Regions from separate parts of the Homo sapiens genome. Here region 2 is linked to region 1. Evidence: fine-mapped expression QTL. A gene starts in region 1. The other region holds a variant in brackets. All regions are shown on one strand. Distances are between the middles of the regions. Region 1 holds the start of RUNX3 (RUNX family transcription factor 3). Region 2 overlaps RUNX3 (RUNX family transcription factor 3).

Region 1 (9,401 bases):
AAGCCTCAGCACCCCCAGCTGTTACTGTTCTTCCCATTTTACCCTCGGGGACCAAGGCTCAGGGGAGCGTGGACACCAGGCAAAAGTCTCAGACCGCACAGGCAGCATCTGGGTCCTAACACCCTCACCACCCTGCTCTCCCTTGCTCCTTCTCCCTCCCCTCCAAGTCTGGAACTTTCCAAAAAGGAAGAAAGATCTCTGTAATTTGAGAAGCACATTTGTGCTCCCACACATTCTGAATCCTTCCAGAGAGGCTGCCCAGGATAGATGACCCCAGAGCTGGACTCTCTGGAGCTGGACCCCCGGCCTACAGGAGACAACCCCTCAACCCAGATATATTGCCATTTTTCATTAACATTTCTCGCTTATATATTCAGAGATCATTATCTGAAATCAGGATGCAGATGAGTCCTAGTTTACTCAGCAGCATTTTCTTTCTGTTTCTTCAAACAATCGATCATCAATCACAATGATGCCCCTCCCCTCCTAGAGGGAATCCTTAATCCCCCTCCCGTGAAATGGAGTGGTTAGAATGACCTCCATTGACAGAAGAGGAAATTGAGGCTCAGTGAGGGGCATGAATGTCCCCTTTGAGTTCTAGGGCACTGGGCAGGAGATAGGTTTCACCACGGGTCCCTCTGGACAGGGGATTTAGGGCCAGGCTGGGAGAAATTTTCAGTTCTAGAAGAGAGTCCTCTGCTCTCTTCGCTGGACTAGGCTCCTGTGTGATTCGGGATATGGGGAACAGAGGCCTCCTGGGAAGGAAACGGGGTCCCTGGCAGTGTCCGCTGAGGCCCAGTTGCTACTCAGGAAAGGGTCTGCCCACAGGAGGGCGGCCGGCTGGGGGCGAAAGTGAGGTTCTGAGAGGAATGGTCAGACAGGCAATCATCGAGACCCAGCTCTGGCCGCCCTGTGATGGTTGCTGGAAACCCCGCTATGAGCTGACTCCACGTGGAGGTAGGTCACAGCCAGTCCTTACCTCCCCCAGGCAGCCTGTGGGCGAATTGAGGGATCAGGACAGCATGGACTGGCTTGGAGTCCTAGTAAGCTTTGAATATGAGAACTGGACATTTCACAGATGGAAGTGTGAGGCCCAGAGAGAGGAGGGGTGGGTCAAAGGCCCCCAGCAAGGATTGAGAGGTCTTATTTTTTCATGACAGTGATGGCTCCCGGAGGCTGGAGCACCCTCCATGTGCCAGGCCTGTGCTAAGCACTTTACACACAATTCTATGAAGGGCCACTATGAGTGCCCCACTTTACAAATGAAAGAAATGAGGCTCAGAGAGGTTTAGGCAACTTTCCCTAGAGCGCTGTGGGTGAGGGAAAAAGACACGCTCAGGCAGAGGGACTGTGGACCCCAGCTCCTTCCATAGCCCATGGACCTCTTAGGCGGTTTCCCAGGGCACACCTGCCCCTTGTCTGGTATACCTGGGGATCCCTGCCCAGGCGCCACAGAGTCCACATGAATCACACCTGCCCTGGGAAGGCGGCACCCTCACTGCCAAGAACGCACTTAGAGAGCACTCCTAAATGCCAGAGGGAGACGAATCCCCTTCCTGGGGCAAAGGAGCTGGCTCTATTTGCCCGGGGATGGGTTCTGGGTTTACCCAGCTCTAAGTCAAGGTAGGGTAGGGGAGTGTCCTGACCTTCTGCTTCCTAGCCCTGCTGTGGACAACTTAGGGTGCTCTTAGGTGGGGGCCACTGGGGAGAAACTGGCCTGTTTGTCCATCGATCTGATGGAAGAGGGAGAAAAGACGACGGTCCATGCCAACTGGGGAAGGGCGAGGGTGTCTGCATGCCCCAGGTGGGGGAGTCGGAGTTCTCCCTCCCATCAAACAGACGACAATTTTTGTCGGTCCGGGATGGGGAGGAAGCAGGTGGAAATTGGGAACAAGCTAGCCTGTTCTGTGGGTCTTCCCCGGGTGCCTGAAAACGCGAAGACAGAAGGCGTCCATCTTATCAGAGGTGAGGAAGGCGGCCTTGGTTTGACACAAAGCCATCGGTTTGTCTGAGACCTGGCCGCATGGATGGCAAGGAAAGGGCAGCTCCTCGGGGGCGGTCGCCGCGCCTGCACCCGGGGCCGCAGCTGGCGCGCATCTGTAGCCCGGCCGGGCCCGCACCTCCGCGGCTGGCAGGGCGCGGGCGCCAACTAGCGGCGGCTCCCGCCACTGTGCCTGCCAGGCGGCCCCGCGACCTTGGTCTGGGGACCCAAGGGCCTGCACCCGCCCCCCCTCCCCCCGCCGCCCTGGTCCCTTGGATCTGGTGCCCACGGGGAGCCAGCGCCCTACGGAGAGCCGGAGCCGTGCCGGGCCCTGCGCCAGGTGCCAGGGCCCACAAGAGTCCCTCATTCTCTGGAAACTTGTCTGTGAACCCATCGTAAGCGGAGAGGGAGAAATCAGGCGGAGGAACAAGCAAAGGGCACGGTGCAAACCGAAACCATTCGACAAATGGAATTTACCACCACCTGAAACAGCGGGTCATGGTCCCGCAACCTGCTCGAGGGCAGCACGTGTTGCCCGCCCCCGGCCAGGGCCCTACCTGGCCACGACGCGCTGCGCCTTCTCGGAGACGTTCCCGGAGGTGGGAGCGCCCAGGCTGGATCACTCGCTTTCCTCTAGTTCTGCTGCTCGTGCCAGCGCGTCCGAGGGCGCGCGGGCCTGGGTCCGCAATCGACAACTGCCAGGCGCAGGCTCTCTTAAAAGGTTCAGTAAGGGACCTTTGCCGTCCTTCCTTTCGACACGGCCTGAGGGCGTGCTGTGAGGTCCCGAGGTGGGTAGGGGCCAGCTCTCCCGGTGGTCGGGGTGAGTCCAGAGTCCTTCGCCCCTGGAGCGCACGCGGGGCTTGATTTCGTTTGGCAACGACGAAATGGCGCGCGCTGAGCAGGGGTCAGATCCATGATGAGATCTTGCGGCCACCGTCGGATCCTAAGCTTCTTTGCTTCCGAGGCTTGGAATTCATTGTTTTGCACCTGTCGAGAGCCGGAGGCAACGAAAATCTAGCCCCGTCTCCAAAGCGGCGGGGAGGCTCAGCACGCGTTCGTTCCCCAGAGTCTAGGGAGGTGTCTGGGGCGATAATTCGGAATGATTGTGGCTTGATCTTTCCCGTTGCCCTCCCAACTGTAGCCGGCCCCTAGGTCTGCTCGACAGACTTAGGAGGCGGGAGAGGAAGGGGTGATTTGCAGTGAAGCCCAGGAGAGGTTGGGCCACGCGGCTGGGAGTGGGAGCGGGGACCCGGAGCCGGGCGGGCAGGCAGTGCCTTGGCGAAGCTGTCCGCGGTCCCTGCGGCGCAGCCGGAGCGCACGGGCCCAAGAAGAAGTGGGGTTGGACCCGCAGAGGCCACTTTCCACCCGCATGGAGAAAGAAAATTCTCTCCTCTGAAAGCGAGGGCCCTTAGCTTTGCAGCCACTGCTGTTTTTCTTTTGCCACCGACGCGCGTACCGTTTCACGATGCAGGACCGTGGTTACATGCGTAAAGGAAAAAAAGAAAAACGCATTTTGCAGGCCTCGTCGTGTTTTTCAAAGAGCCACAGGCCGCCACAACGAAGAACGACGCCGCGAGGCCTGCAAGATCCTGAAACTTGTTTTGAGGGGAGAGCAGAGAGGAAAGGGGTTGTTGGCCCCAGGCTACTTAGGGTCCCTAGGAGACTCCCTTCCGCCTGTCCCCGGTTTGGCACAGGGGCCACCGAGGCTGGGACCAAAGCCGCGCAGGGCTGGGAGCAGCAAAGGCCGCCGGCCGGGCGTGGACGACGCGCAAAATCCCGTGTGGGGTGGAGGCTCTTGGGTCAGAATAATGTGCGGGACGAGGGAGGTGAGTAACCTCTTTGGGGCGGCTCCCAGTGCGGCGTCACCGGCCCTGAGACCCCGCGGCCCCCAGCCCGGGGTTGCAGAAGTCACAGGCCCGAAGCAGCAAGAGCTGGGGAAGCCCGGCCGCGGCCAGCGGGGAGGAGGAGCGAAGGGGTTGCGCCCCAGCGTCAGGGAGCTACGACCCGAGAGAGGGCGGCAAGGGCGCCTTCCGTGGGACCCGGACGTTCTAAGCAAATTTCTAGCATTTGCCCCGGGCTCCCAGAGCTCTCGGGGGCCCTGGGCTGTGGCACTGGGGCCTCCTCCGCGGGGTGGCGCCTTCCGCCCCTCCCCGTTGGGCGGCCTCCGGCAGGCCCCGTTCCTCCCCGCGAACGCCACCGAGGTGCCCGCGATGGGGGCTCCGCCGATTGGCTGTGCGACGCGTCGCTCCGCCAGCCCCGCCCCGCGGGCCCCGGGGGTACTAACCCCGCGCGGGCGGCCGCGGCCCCGCCACTTGATTCTGGAGGATTTGTTCTGGGGCTGCGGCCGCGGAGTCGGGGCGGCCGCGGGCGAGCTTCGGGGCGGGAGGCGGCGGCAGCGGCACAGCCCCGCGCGGGCCCCGCCGCGGCCCAGGCAGCCGGGACAGCCACGAGGGGCGGCCGCACGCGGGGCCGCGCGCCGAGGATGCGGGACTAGCCGGGCAGGCTGCGGGCGGCCGTCGGGCCAGCGAGGCCTCGCAGCGGGCGGGCCCTGGCGAGTAGTGGCCGGGCGCCGCCCCCTGCGCCCTGAGGCCCGGGCCCCGCCGCTTCTGCTTTCCCGCTTCTCGCGGCAGCGGCGGCCGAGGAGGCGCCCGCGCCGGCCGCCCCCGGGGGAAGCCGCGCCGTCTCCGCCTGCCCGGCGCCCTGACGGCCGCTGTTATGCGTATTCCCGTAGACCCAAGCACCAGCCGCCGCTTCACACCTCCCTCCCCGGCCTTCCCCTGCGGCGGCGGCGGCGGCAAGATGGGCGAGAACAGCGGCGCGCTGAGCGCGCAGGCGGCCGTGGGGCCCGGAGGGCGCGCCCGGCCCGAGGTGCGCTCGATGGTGGACGTGCTGGCGGACCACGCAGGCGAGCTCGTGCGCACCGACAGCCCCAACTTCCTCTGCTCCGTGCTGCCCTCGCACTGGCGCTGCAACAAGACGCTGCCCGTCGCCTTCAAGGTGAGTGCGGGACCCGGGGCGGGAGGGCGCCGGCCCTGGGGCTCCGGGCGTCTGAGCTGCGGGAGCCAGAGCCTCGGGAGCAGTGGGGATGGGAGGTGCCCGAGACGCCGCGGCGACACCCGGGCACCCGGTTCAGTCTGGCTGCGCGCTCGGCTCCGGGACCTCGGCGTTCCGTTTTGGATGCGCCCTGCAGGAATGACTTTTAACGGGGTTGCCCCGCTCCACCTGGGTTTTGGGGCGCCTTGCGTAGAGACGTTGGTGCGGAAATGGGCGGATGGGGTTTTGCGCCCCCCTAACCCGGATCGCTCAGATACAGCCCTGCGGGTAACGGAGAAGAGGATCCCGGGACAGGGGCAAGGACACCGCGGGTGGGGTGCGAACGGTGAAAGGGCCTACCCTCCGCCTCCAGCACCCCTCCTCCCGCGCCGCTTCGCAAAAGCTTCCTGCTCACACCCTCGGGCTTCCGAAATTTTACCGGACGGCGCTAGGCCGGGATCGGGGCACTGCTCTCCAGACGTTTGCTCGGGGATATTATGCGTCCCGAATGGCGAGTTGAGATTGGGGGACCCCTAACCCTGGCAGCCCCCAGCCATTTAGAGGACCTTTTTCTTTATGCCAGGGAGTAGGCGACTGTTTCATTTTCATTTTTTTAAGGGGGCAGCGAGATGAAACGAAAACGCCTCGGTTTTCCCCTAAACCTCTCACAGCTGCCGTGAGAAAAGGGCAGGGCAGGAAGGGCCGGCGGCTGGGGGTGGTGCTGCCCGAGGTGGCTGGAAGCTGAGGCCGTCCCTGCTCCCATTAAGACGACTCTAAATGGGAAAAAAAGGAAGAGTGGCTCTTTGAGGTCTCCCGGGTGACATCTTAAAATACCAGTGGGGGAAATCTCGCCGGGAGGGGCGGGAGGCCCGTGTGACTTTAATCGTCAGATCGGAGGTTTTACTGTCACTTGGAGCTTAAAAGGAGTCTTTGAAATTAAAAGAAGACAGGATGTTGACAGGAAATCTGGTCTTCTTAATCAGATCCCAAACATTTTCTCCTTGAAATTTTTACCATATGGATCCCCAGTCCCTGCACGCGGCGGCCACGTTTAAATAGTTGTGACTCTGTTTAAAGTCTGATTCTTTTTCAAAAGGCATCCGCCTCTCCGTGCTCCTGGGGGTGGGGGATTTGGGGGAGATGGTGTTTAGGGGGACATCGCCACCCCCATCCTGCAATTCCCGGCAGGTGCATCCTTCCATTATCAAAAGCCCCACTCTCACTTTAAAGGGGTTTTCTGGTGGCCTTTTTCAAAACACCAGTGAGTTTTGCATTCTGCATTTTCTCTGCATAACGAATTTAGGCTCTGCAGAGGCCAATAAACTGGGCCTGGTCCACATTTCAGGGCCAAATTTCATGCCCTAAACAGCTCTTGCATAAATTGAGTGGGGGTAGCAGCCCTGTTGTTATTATTGTTGTTACTCTTTCTCATTTGGAGACTTCGTTGCTAGGAGCATGTTGATTCCTCTTTCGCTGCAGCCGAAGACAACAGGGGAACTGCACCCCACATCATAGTGACTGAGCTGATTCACAGCTCTGGCTTAGATTTCATTGAAAGGATGATTTCTTGGGACACAGTTTATGTAAGCAGTTGATCTAGGATTTTGGTGTGGAAGCTCGAGATTCCATCTTCTTGTTTTCGTGATATTTGGGGGAAGGTCTTTATTGTTTTTAAGCCTCTTCTCCACCCTGCATTGGAGAAATACTCAGTGTGCCTGGGACCTGGGGGAGCTGCCCAGCCCAGCCCCTCCCCTCCTTTCCCTGGTCACCCTCTTCCTTTCTAAGCTGTCCCCCTGCATCCCCCCGCCCCGTGTCTTCAGGTGGTGGCATTGGGGGACGTGCCGGATGGTACGGTGGTGACTGTGATGGCAGGCAATGACGAGAACTACTCCGCTGAGCTGCGCAATGCCTCGGCCGTCATGAAGAACCAGGTGGCCAGGTTCAACGACCTTCGCTTCGTGGGCCGCAGTGGGCGAGGTAAGTGGAAGGGAGGCCTCGCCATTTCAGCATTGGCAATGGCAGGGGCAGCAGGGAAGGAGGTTGAAAGAGGGGCCTTAGAATCCCGAAAAACAGGTCTCCAGATGCAGCTCTGTCTAAAAACAGCAATTTGTAATCCTGTAGGATATTACAGATCGCTTTGAGGAGGTGAGGAAAGTTATGGTCTCTTGCCAGAAAAAGACAATTTTCTCCCAGTTTCTAGGGTTTACCAACTCCTGAAACCGTTCATGCCACCCCCTCTTTCCCGGTTAAGCACACCTGGTCTCACAAAAAATGCTGGCAGGAGATGGTGGATTAACAAGCTCAAAAAGGGAGCTTATAGGTCTTTCAGCAAGGCGGTTGCAGGACAAGTCCCTGATCTGTGGGGCCCAAGCACCCCAGCCACTCTCTCCATAGGGGGCAGAATATCCCCCACACTCTGAGGCTGTCTCTCCAGCTGTGGTCTCCCAGACCCAGTTTCCCAGCGCCTTTGAGCCCTAGGTGGTCTAGAACGGAAGCTAACGCAGCTGAATGTTGGAAAGCACAGCTCGAAGGCTGCCATCTCCTGCCCCAGAGTCAAGGCGGGTGTGCCACCCTGCCTGTCTGACCGACCTTGAGCAGCAGAAGGAAGGCGGGACGGGGGTGGGGGGCTGTTGAATGGGAGGCTTCTGGGACCTGAAACCCATCATCACTTAACTCCTGGATGGGAAAGTCCTGGAAACCCTGCCCCTGTGGAACGGAGGCCTGAGGGTCCACTGGCCCTTTAAGACCAGCCTGCCTACGAGAAGTGGCTGAAGTGGGAGTCGCCCTTCCCAAGCACCAGGCCCGCCTCTAGCTTTGTTAAGAAGTAAGCTGGGTTCCCTCTGCTCCCCAACTCCACAGCAGGCTGAAGTGGCTGAAGCAGAACCGTGCTTTTCATCACCAATAAACAGGACCTTCTCAAGGTTCTAGTTCCCTCTGAGCTGCCAGCCCCGCTCTGAAACAGGCATCTGGGCACCATTTTTTCCTTTCCAGCCGTTCGATGTATACATACAAATGTCAGCCATATTTTGACTTTTCAGCATTAATTAAAACCAGGACATTATTTGCATGTAATAACTGTTTACTTGTTACTTTTTATGAAACTGAAATAGTTTACATTCTTTCAAACATTTCCTGTTCCTGTTGGCTCCCTTCCCCACACACAGATTTCTTTCAAACGGTGCCCTTAACTGGTTGCAGGTTGATGGATGGAAAATGTTTGCTTTTATGAATTAAGCTTTCATTGCTGCTCCTAATTAGTCTCCAAGTCCCTTTTGTCATCCCCAATCTCTCAAACCCTTTGCGACTTAATCCCAACCCTGAGAGGACAGTCACTGGTCCTTGGTCGGTGGCAGACAAGGCTGATGAGCTCTGCTGACTGCGGGGCAGTGGCCAGGTCTGCTAGCCCAGGTATGTGTCAGGAGCACTATAGCTGCTGCCTGTTGCGAGGCGGGCAGAAGGTGCTGTCGATCTGGGAGCCCAGCAAGGCATCAGGAACTTGATTCTCCCTTCCCACTCTCTCTCCTGGGAAGCGAGAGAAAGAGAAGAGACGACGATTTTCTGAGTTACCGAGACCTTGTCTGGCCATTCTGCACACTGAGAATGATTTTTTTAGGGGTTTTCATGCCCACAGACCTTGAGCCCCCCTCCCCAGGCCTGCAGGGAGGGAAATGGGTTTCCAAGGCGTTGGTTGGGAGCTTGTCCTTGTAGCAGGAATGGCCGAGGCTGGGACTGTGGCTCTGGGAGATGCAAGAGGCTGAGTTTATAAACCATTCTCTCATCCATCTCCTCTCAGAGGTCCATAACCAGTCTCAGTGGTCCTGGGAGGCAGGAAGTGATCTGAGGAGGAGTTCCGATGTCTGAGGAACTGTGGCTAAGGCGTTCAGCCTTCAGAGGCTCGAGGTCTTTGAGAGCCTGCATTCTAGTATCAGCCACCCTGCGTTTGAGTCCCAGCTCTGCTAATGACTTGCTGGATGACATTGGGCAAATGACTTAACCACTCTGTGCCTCAGTTTCCTCATCTGTGAGATGGGGATGATAATGGTACCTACCTCATGAGATTTTGGGAAGGTTAGGGAAATTGACACAAGTGTATCAGCTGGCGCATATTGAGAGCTGGATACATGTTAGAGATTTTGTTACTTCAAATGCCTGGGACTGGAGGAGGACTTTGAGGTCCCTTTGAGCGGTGACAGCCACTGATTCTCTGATTACTGTGTGGTTTGGGCGGGGGTGGGGGAAACCCAGAAGGTGTGAACTGCTGAGTGGGAGAGGTGGAGGCGGTTGGCAGGGAGGAAGGAGGGTGCCGGGTCCGCTGGCATGCAGACACACATCTGCAGTGCCCATCCTGCTGACTGGGAAATTCCCACCTGAGAGAACAGTCAGTGGT
Region 2 (9,401 bases), 29 kb after region 1:
CTCAAGAGGTAGCGGAAGGAGCCCTGCACGCTGTGCTCACGCCCACCCCTGCCGCGTAGCTGCCTCTGCTTCTGCTACCCATGGGCCAGCATCTGTCGAGGTGCAGTAGCCTGAGAGCCAGCCTTTCTCTGCCATGGACAGAGCCAGGCCAGGGGATCGGGGCTCAGCGGGGGAGCCAGAATCCAGGAGGTGGGGTGAACAGTGGCTTCCTGTCCACCAGCCCCCATGGAAGGAGAGCCCACATCTGCCCATCCACTGCTGGGTGGGCACAGCTTGGGAATCAATGCCTGGCCCCACGGCAGGCACAGCTGCTGCTTCCATCCTGGGCTGGGAGGAAAGGAGCCCAGCCTGTGTGGGGCAGTGGCTGACTTCTGCTTCTCTGCCTGCTCCCTCCTGAGGCCTGGCCCAGTCCCTCGCTAGCCCCCCACAGCACTGGGCCACAGGCAGCCAGGCATCTCCATCCTCAGGCCCATCCCCTTTGGGTGAGAGAAAGGGCCTCGGATGACCAGGACAGGGCGAGCATGAACTCTGCAGTCAGCTGGACCAGGCTAGGAATTCAGGCTCTGCCAGGCATTGGCTGTATGATCTTAGACAAGTCACTTAAACTCAGCCTCAGTTTTCTCATCTGTGAAGTGGGGAGAAGGAGGTCCCTGACAAAGAGGGGTTGCTGGCAGACCTAGGCTTGGGAAGTCACTCTCACAGGCCCTCCTCCCTCTGCCCTCGGACTCCCTCCTGGGGATCCCCCTTGGGACACCCCACCACCACTTCCCTCGGTGCCTGTTAAGTGCTTTGACCCTCCAATATTGGTCACTGGCAAGCAGTGCAGAGACCCCAGCACCTCCCATACCCCAGCCCCAGCCCCCAGCCGCAGCCGCCCACAATGGGGGCTTCTCACAGCTGAAAGGGCTCATTCAGCCACCATGCAGCAGCCCGGACAATCTGGAGAAGAAAATAAACATTTCTTTCCACTGTTGGGATTGGCCACTCGACAGTGCCCCGGGCAGCTCGGGTTTCCTGGGGCTGCGAGGCCGCAGGGTGGGGGTACAGGAGCTCCAAGGAAGCTGCTGGGGGGTCTGAGGGAGTGCTGAGGGCAGGTACTTCCCCCACCACCCCGGAGGAGGGGTGGTGGCCCTGAGGAAAGAGGCTGGAGGGGATGGTGGCAGGTCCAGGGAGGCCCAGCCCAGCGCCCTGCAGCCCGCGTGAGCTCTGAGGGGCACAGTCCTGCCGTTGTATCCTGCGGTCCCCATTTGTTTCCTTCGTCTTGAGAATGGGGTTCCCATCAGGCGGCCAGCACCCACTTCCACCCCACCCATCTCAGCTGTGCTGACGTGCCCAGCACCTGCAACAGGACCTCTCCCCCCGAGGGGCTCCCCAGATGAAAACTGGCAGCCAGGTGCCTCGGAGGCTCTCGGCCTCAAGGGGCCGGGACAGCCAAGTGACCTACTAGGGAACATCCCAGATGTCCCAGAAGGCCCCCGCCACCCAGACTGCTGTCCCCACATCTTCTTACCTTAAGCCAGGAGCATCACTCCGTTCGGATCCACGCCCAGGGCCAGAGTACGCTGCTGAGGGAAACATACCCCAGCTGACTTGGGAAGACCCCAAAGCCCCGAGAAGTTCCAAGTCCCAGCCGAAGTCACACACACCTCAGGCTCATAGCTCTCCGTCCTCAGCCAAGCCTCGGCGTGGCAGGCAGAGCCCACTCCGGCTAGCACCGGCCCTTATCCTTTGGTGGGTGACACAGAGGGGTTGCTGGGCTGGACAGACTGCACCTCTGGACCACTGCTGGGGGCTCATCCACCTCCCCCGGCTGCCAGAGTAGAAGGGAGGCCCTGCACCAGGGCCTCAACTTGGCAGGGCCCTGAATGAGCCAGTTCTCCTGGGTACCCAGAGTAAGAGACACCACAGCCACAGTGGCCTTGCAAAGCCTCATGGACCCCTGCTCTGTGCCCAGTGCCATTCTAAGTACTCGATGTGAATTAACTGAATCCTGATGAACTGTTATCGTCTCATGTTTTATATGGGGAAACTGATGCGCAGAGAGGTTAAGTGACTTGCCCAAGGACACAAAGCTAGTAAGTGTCCAAACCAGGATAACTGTCCGGCTCCAGAAGCCACACAGTAAGCCTTGATCCTGTGCTGCCTCAAAGACGGGACAGCTCCCTCTCAAGTACGTGTTGGGGCTCAGGACCAGAGGCCCTAGGATTGTGTGCCAGGTCCAATGTGCTGTGTGACCCTGAGGGAAGTGCCTCACCCTGTCTGGGCCTCAGTTTCCCCATCAAGGGTGTTAGACTCAATCCCTGAGCCCCTTTGAATGCTGAGGTTTTGGGGGTCTGTGATGACAAAAGTTGGGGACAGAGGATGGAACACCCTTGCCTTGGAGCCCATTGAGAAGCCACATTCCTGGGGGAGCAGGGGCAGAGTCTGGGCTGGACACTGTGACCAGGTTGGGGTCTGGGTCCCCAAGTTTGTCTGACTGCTGTCTCACTTTGCTGCCAAGGCAGGTTAGGGTGGCATCCAGTCACTGTGTGGCCACGAGTCGGCTCCAGAGACACAGGCCCAGGGTGAGGTGGAGGCCAGAGCTCCTGTGAACTCAGTGCCCACAACCCAGGTGTGAGCGCACAGAACCTCCGCGTGCTGCACCTGGGCAGGAGAGGCACGTGTGTCCCCAGCAGAGGCCTTGTGATGAGAACCAGTCCTTTCTCTGCCACAGAGACTCAGTCTTGCTCTCTCTCTGCCTCCATTTTCTTGTCTTCAAAAGCGGGTTCCAACTCCCAGTCTCACACGGTCATTGGAGCCCTTTACACATCCACGGCCTTCCCAGCTGTTAACATGGGCCGGTGGGGAGAGGAACCTGCCTGGGCAGGGCTGCTGGGAGGCCTGAGCTGACTCTGCCCTCAGCCCCACCACCGCATCCTAGGCCTCTCCTCTGCGAGGCTGGGAAGGAGGATTTAAAAAGAAGAATAGACCCCCTCCTCTGTTCTGTTGCTGCTGTGGGGGGGCTCCCATGGCCCCTCTTGGCCCGGGGCACGCTCCAACCAGCTTCCCGGCAGGTCTGTGTTCGGAGTCCTGGCGGGGGAGGCCCCGGGCAGCCTAGGGCAGGAAGAGGAGAGCCAGGTCTAGAACTAGGGGTCCCCCAGATGGGCCTTGGGAACCAGAGCCCAAGGTCATTCTTCAGGAAGCCCTCCTGGGGTTGTCTCGAGCTGGAACTGACCTCTTCCCTGCTGTCCTCCAGGCACCTCGGAACTGAACCCATTCTCCGACCCCCGCCAGTTTGACCGCTCCTTCCCCACGCTGCCAACCCTCACGGAGAGCCGCTTCCCAGACCCCAGGATGCATTATCCCGGGGCCATGTCAGCTGCCTTCCCCTACAGCGCCACGCCCTCGGGCACGAGCATCAGCAGCCTCAGCGTGGCGGGCATGCCGGCCACCAGCCGCTTCCACCATACCTACCTCCCGCCACCCTACCCGGGGGCCCCGCAGAACCAGAGCGGGCCCTTCCAGGCCAACCCGTCCCCCTACCACCTCTACTACGGGACATCCTCTGGCTCCTACCAGTTCTCCATGGTGGCCGGCAGCAGCAGTGGGGGCGACCGCTCACCTACCCGCATGCTGGCCTCTTGCACCAGCAGCGCTGCCTCTGTCGCCGCCGGCAACCTCATGAACCCCAGCCTGGGCGGCCAGAGTGATGGCGTGGAGGCCGACGGCAGCCACAGCAACTCACCCACGGCCCTGAGCACGCCAGGCCGCATGGATGAGGCCGTGTGGCGGCCCTACTGACCGCCCTGGTGGACTCCTCCCGCTGGAGGCGGGGACCCTAACAACCTTCAAGACCAGTGATGGGCCGGCTCCGAGGCTCCGGGCGGGAATGGGACCTGCGCTCCAGGGTGGTCTCGGTCCCAGGGTGGTCCCAGCTGGTGGGAGCCTCTGGCTGCATCTGTGCAGCCACATCCTTGTACAGAGGCATAGGTTACCACCCCCACCCCGGCCCGGGATACTGCCCCCGGCCCAGATCCTGGCCGTCTCATCCCATACTTCTGTGGGGAATCAGCCTCCTGCCACCCCCCCGGAAGGACCTCACTGTCTCCAGCTATGCCCAGTGCTGCATGGGACCCATGTCTCCTGGGACAGAGGCCATCTCTCTTCCAGAGAGAGGCAGCATTGGCCCACAGGATAAGCCTCAGGCCCTGGGAAACCTCC[C/T]GACCCCTGCACCTTCGTTGGAGCCCCTGCATCCCCTGGGTCCAGCCCCCTCTGCATTTACACAGATTTGAGTCAGAACTGGAAAGTGTCCCCCACCCCCACCACCCTCGAGCGGGGTTCCCCTCATTGTACAGATGGGGCAGGACCCAGCACGCTGCTGGCAGAGATGGTTTGAGAACACATCCAAGCCAGTCCCCCCAGCCCAGCTTCCCCTCCGTTCCTAACTGTTGGCTTTCCCCCAGCCGCACGGGTCCCAGGCCCCAGAGAAGATGAGTCTATGGCATCAGGTTCTTAAACCCAGGAAAGCACCTACAGACCGGCTCCTCCATGCACTTTACCAGCTCAACGCATCCACTCTCTGTTCTCTTGGCAGGGCGGGGGAGGGGGGATAGGAGGTCCCCTTTCCCCTAGGTGGTCTCATAATTCCATTTGTGGAGAGAACAGGAGGGCCAGATAGATAGGTCCTAGCAGAAGGCATTGAGGTGAGGGATCATTTTGGGTCAGACATCAATGTCCCTGTCCCCCCTGGGTCCAGCCAAGCTGTGCCCCATCCCCCAAGCCTCCTGGGAGGATCCAGCCAAATCTTGCGACTCCTGGCACACACCTGTCTGTAACCTGTTTTGTGCTCTGAAAGCAAATAGTCCTGAGCAAAAAAAAAAAAAAAACAAAAAAACAAAAAAAAAACAAAACAGTTTTTAAAACTGATTTTAGAAAAAGAAGCTTAATCTAACGTTTTCAAACACAAGGTCTCTTACAGGTATAGTTCCGTGATTATGATAGCTCTGTGATTATAAGCAACATCCCCGCCCCCTCTCCCCCCCGCGGACCCCCAGCTGCCTCCTGAGGGTGTGGGGTTATTAGGGTCTCAATACTTTCTCAAGGGGCTACACTCCCCATCAGGCAGCATCCCACCAGCCTGCACCACAGGCTCCCCTGGGAGGACGAGGGAAACGCTGATGAGACGCTGGGCATCTCTCCTCTGTGGCTCTAGGACATCTGTCCAGGAGGCTGGGCGGAGGTGGGCAGGATGTGAGAGGTGGGGAGTACTGGCTGTGCGTGGCAGGACAGAAGCACTGTAAAGGGCTCTCCAGCCGCAGCTCAGCTGCACTGCGTTCCGAGGTGAAGTCTTGCCCCTGAATTTTGCAAAATGGGAAAGTGGGCGCTTGCCCAAGGGCCAGGCTGCATGGATTCTCACATCAGAGTTCTCTGGCCCTAGAAAGGCTTAGAAAAGGCGTAAGGGAACTCATAAAGGCTAGCAGCATGCGGTATTTTAACTTTCTGCCTCGGCCTCTGTGGATGCAGAAATCTGCCCTACAAAATGCTCTTCATTGGTTGTCTCTGTGAGAGCACTGTCCCCACCCAACCTGTCACAACGGCCAGAACCATACACCAGAGACACACTGGCAGGTTAGGCAGTCCTTCTGGTGATCCTATTCCATTCCCTCCTGCTGCGGTTTCTCTTGGCCTGTCCTCACTGGAAAAACAGTCTCCATCTCCTCAAAATAGTTGCTGACTCCCTGCACCCAAGGGGCCTCTCCATGCCTTCTTAGGAAGCAGCTATGAATCCATTGTCCTTGTAGTTTCTTCCCTCCTGTTCTCTGGTTATAGCTGGTCCCAGGTCAGCGTGGGAGGCACCTTTGGGTTCCCAGTGCCCAGCACTTTGTAGTCTCATCCCAGATTACTAACCCTTCCTGATCCTGGAGAGGCAGGGATAGTAAATAAATTGCTCTTCCTACCCCATCCCCCATCCCCTGACAAAAAGTGACGGCAGCCGTACTGAGTCTGTAAGGCCCAAAGTGGGTACAGACAGCCTGGGCTGGTAAAAGTAGGTCCTTATTTACAAGGCTGCGTTAAAGTTGTACTAGGCAAACACACTGATGTAGGAAGCACGAGGAAAGGAAGACGTTTTGATATAGTGTTACTGTGAGCCTGTCAGTAGTGGGTACCAATCTTTTGTGACATATTGTCATGCTGAGGTGTGACACCTGCTGCACTCATCTGATGTAAAACCATCCCAGAGCTGGCGAGAGGATGGAGCTGGGTGGAAACTGCTTTGCACTATCGTTTGCTTGGTGTTTGTTTTTAACGCACAACTTGCTTGTACAGTAAACTGTCTTCTGTACTATTTAACTGTAAAATGGAATTTTGACTGATTTGTTACAATAATATAACTCTGAGATGTGTGGAAGGAGTCCAGTGCCCGGTTTCTAGGGCTATGCATGGAGGTGGGGTGGGGTGGGGGAGAGGATGGAGACCTCCTGCTGTTGCCCAGGAGGAACAGGAACAGAGACACCCAGCACCTTCATCTCCTTGCTTCCAACTTCTTCAGGAATGGCCGCAGAGACCACCCTGGCCACAGGACAGCCGGTGAGGCCTGCTCCTGTATGGCTGGGACCCCAGGAGAGCATCAAATAGGTCTTCAAAGTGCCACAACCCTTCCACCAATCATGAGCGGGCTGTGAGTCTTCCCAGCCGTGTTGGGAGGAATTCCTATGCCTGTTCCTCAGATTCACATTTCGGGAGGGGGCAGAGGCAGAGGGAGAGTCCAAGTGCCTTGGTGAGAACCCCCCTCTGAGGCTCGTGTTTCAAGATCTGTGGCAAGCTAGCAGCAGTGGGGATTGGGAGTAAGCGGCAACTTCAGTGCCCCCATTTTGCAGATGAGACAACTGCGGTGCAAAGAAGGAGTGTCATCAAGGTCCATGTCTCCCTGGGGTTGTCCATGGCTGAACTGGGACCACAGCCCAACAATGGTAGCATGGGTGTGATGGTGTGGGGACCTGGCTTGACAGCCCCCCTCCCACCTTGCCAGCAAGGAGGCCTGGTCCACTTGGGATTTGTACCAACACACAGCCCAGAGCCTGGCCAGTTGGGATTTGTGAAGGGAAATTTTTACAAAACAGACCTTATTTTTGAGTGATGCCCACCGACTTCAAAAACCACTCCCAAAGCTTTGCCCTGCTCAGTTTGGTTGGTCTGCCTGAAACTCAGCTCCCAACAAGAAGCTTCCATTTCCCTAGCCCGGCATCCCCTTTTACCCAAAAGACAGCAGGTCCATCTCTGGACAGGACCTCAGCCGTGGCTACAGAACTTCTCTGTTGGTCTGCTCTGGGCAGCCTCTGCCAGGGTTGGTCCTGAAACGGCATCTACATGGCCAAAACTGTTTCTATTTATTTGGGGTCACTTTGTAGGGGATGGTAGCACTCCTCACCAGGCACACTTTGGTGCCACAGCAGATCGGAGAGGAGCTGTGCCCTCCAGAGTTCCTGACTCAAATCTCCATCACCTGCACCCTAGCAGGCACGAACCAGCACACCCAGCTTGCCAAGGGGAAACTCAAGGTCCCGAGAAGTCTCAGCTTGCCTGAGGTCCCAGGGCTGCGGGAGGAAGTGCTGCAGTAGCCACAGCAGCCTGCAGGTGGCAATAGGGGGCGGCATCCCTGGGCAGCAGGTGGAGAGAGTGGACATCATCCCCTTTGGACAAGGGTGAGGAGAGGCTGCCTTGGTTACAGCAAGAATTCAGGTAAGGTATTAAGAAGAACTTCCCAACCTCAGGTGACTCATTCCCGAAAGGGCCAGCTAAAGGTCTTGATGTGGGGAAGGTTTTCCCTTCCCGAGCCGTGTGGCAGTGGGAGGTCCCTGTCCCTCTCTGAGTCTCCCTTTTTGGTCATACGCTGAATGAGCACCGGCCGTGTGCCAGGTGTGGAGTAGGACCCCACACCCCATAATCGTCTGCTTTGGGACAGGGTGTACCTGGCTTGAAGGCAGGGTTGACTTTCATAGTTTTACAACCCTGGCCTCCTGGACCCTGGGCCCAGCCCCACCCATGTCCCCTGAGCCACCAGCAAGAGCTTAGGTCATGTAGAAGCCAGTTCAGATTGAGGAAGCCATTTAGTTCCACAGCCTGGGAGCCCCTGGACTCCAGAATTCCGCTTTGGAGGCTCTAGGAGTCCTGTTGATCTGGGCTGGACTTTGAGTCCCTCCAGTTTCTTCAGCCCCCACAGCTTGAGGTTGGCCCAGATGGGCCCAATGATGGACCCAGAGAGCCGGCTGTGGCCTGGGGGCTCCCAGAAGTGGCCTCCTGTGGGGTGAAGTGGCCCAGATGGACCCGCCTTGCCGGCCCCTAGGAGCAGCCCTGCCACTGTTGGGCTGTGGCCATGGGGATGGCTTTGGCTTTTACACTGAGCAATGGATGTCCTGGCAGTGAGGCTACAGGCCAGAGATGACACATTCCCACGTTAGGGCCTGGTGAGGGCTTGAGGAGATGGCGCGGGGTGGGGCCAGTGCCGTGGGTAGGGGAGGGCAGGGCTGGATGCAGACCCAGCCCTGCCTCCCTCCTCAGCCCCGGCCTCTCCTCTGCTCCAGACTGCACCCCCGCATAAATGCAGCCCCCCAGCATGGCCCAGAGGGCAGCTCTCAGCTGCACCAAACAACCCAGCCTGGCCACGTGAGTAGAGAATACACCTCAGTGGGTCGGTTCATTTTGGGGTCGTAAATGAAATGAGCTGTCAAATGGGACGGGGGCAGGAGGGAGGCCAGAGTGAAAGAATGAACTGTTCCTGGCAGAAATCCAAAATGCCCCTCATTCCTCCCCATGAGGGCTCCAGAGCTGGGAGGGGTGAGGGGCCACATCGCCCCGACATCCGCAGCCACACCTGTGTGGTCCAGTGGCTGGGGAAGCCTGGGGAGCCGGATCCCGCGCTTCCTATTTTTAGTTTTGCAGCTAAGAGTGCGCTGTGTGTTTTATATATTTATATTCACCCACAGAAAGGGCCTGCCCTGGGCCTGGCCCAGGGGACCTATCATGGGAAGGGGAGTGCGGCAGCCCTGGAGCCGGCCTGGACTACCCTCCTTTGTGCCCACCCTGACGGCTGGCAGCAATGTGGGCTCTCTGGTGTCCAAACACACCATTTGGGCCACACCACCCCACTCAGCTCATTGGGCTGGGTGTCTTTGAGGCCTTGGCCAGAATTCATTCACTCATTCACCAGACACAGAGCCCCACCCCACCCTCAGGTGCCAGACACCAAGAACAAGGTGAACAAGTCACAGCCATGGCCTCAGGGATCTCACAGGGCAGACAGACAGGAAAGCAGGTTGTGCCAGCCCAGTGTGGATCAGGGCAAACAAGCCAAGCTCCTCAGAGAAAATGTCTCTCCCCCGAGATCAGATGGAAAGATGAGTAGGAATGGATCAAGCAGAGAT

The links.
Region 2: its variant is fine-mapped to the expression of RUNX3 in whole blood (TOPMed, PIP above 0.99).

Annotation. Positions count from the first base shown.
Region 1 is chr1:24,925,164-24,934,564 of GRCh38, reverse strand. RUNX3 (RUNX family transcription factor 3) reads left to right here and starts at 4,289. Exons shown (of 5, transcript NM_004350.3): 1 at 4,289-4,978; 2 at 6,835-6,991. The coding sequence starts at 4,697. It overlaps RUNX3-AS1 (RUNX3 antisense RNA 1), which reads right to left and starts at 4,108. Exons shown (of 4, transcript NR_183341.1): 1 at 2,539-4,108. RefSeq lists silencers at 2,051-2,270, 3,941-4,410, 4,611-5,050 and enhancers at 2,586-3,175, 4,615-5,348, 5,521-5,700, 5,349-6,083, 7,495-7,764.
Region 2 is chr1:24,896,501-24,905,901 of GRCh38, reverse strand. RUNX3 (RUNX family transcription factor 3) reads left to right here. Exons shown (of 5, transcript NM_004350.3): 5 at 3,236-6,391. The coding sequence ends at 3,780. Among named protein-coding and RNA genes, the nearest start is that of MIR6731, 18 kb to the left of the region's middle. RefSeq lists enhancers at 3,505-3,574, 3,655-3,724, 4,055-4,504, 5,272-5,321, 7,412-7,481. The variant C/T (reference allele first, on the strand shown) is at 4,201.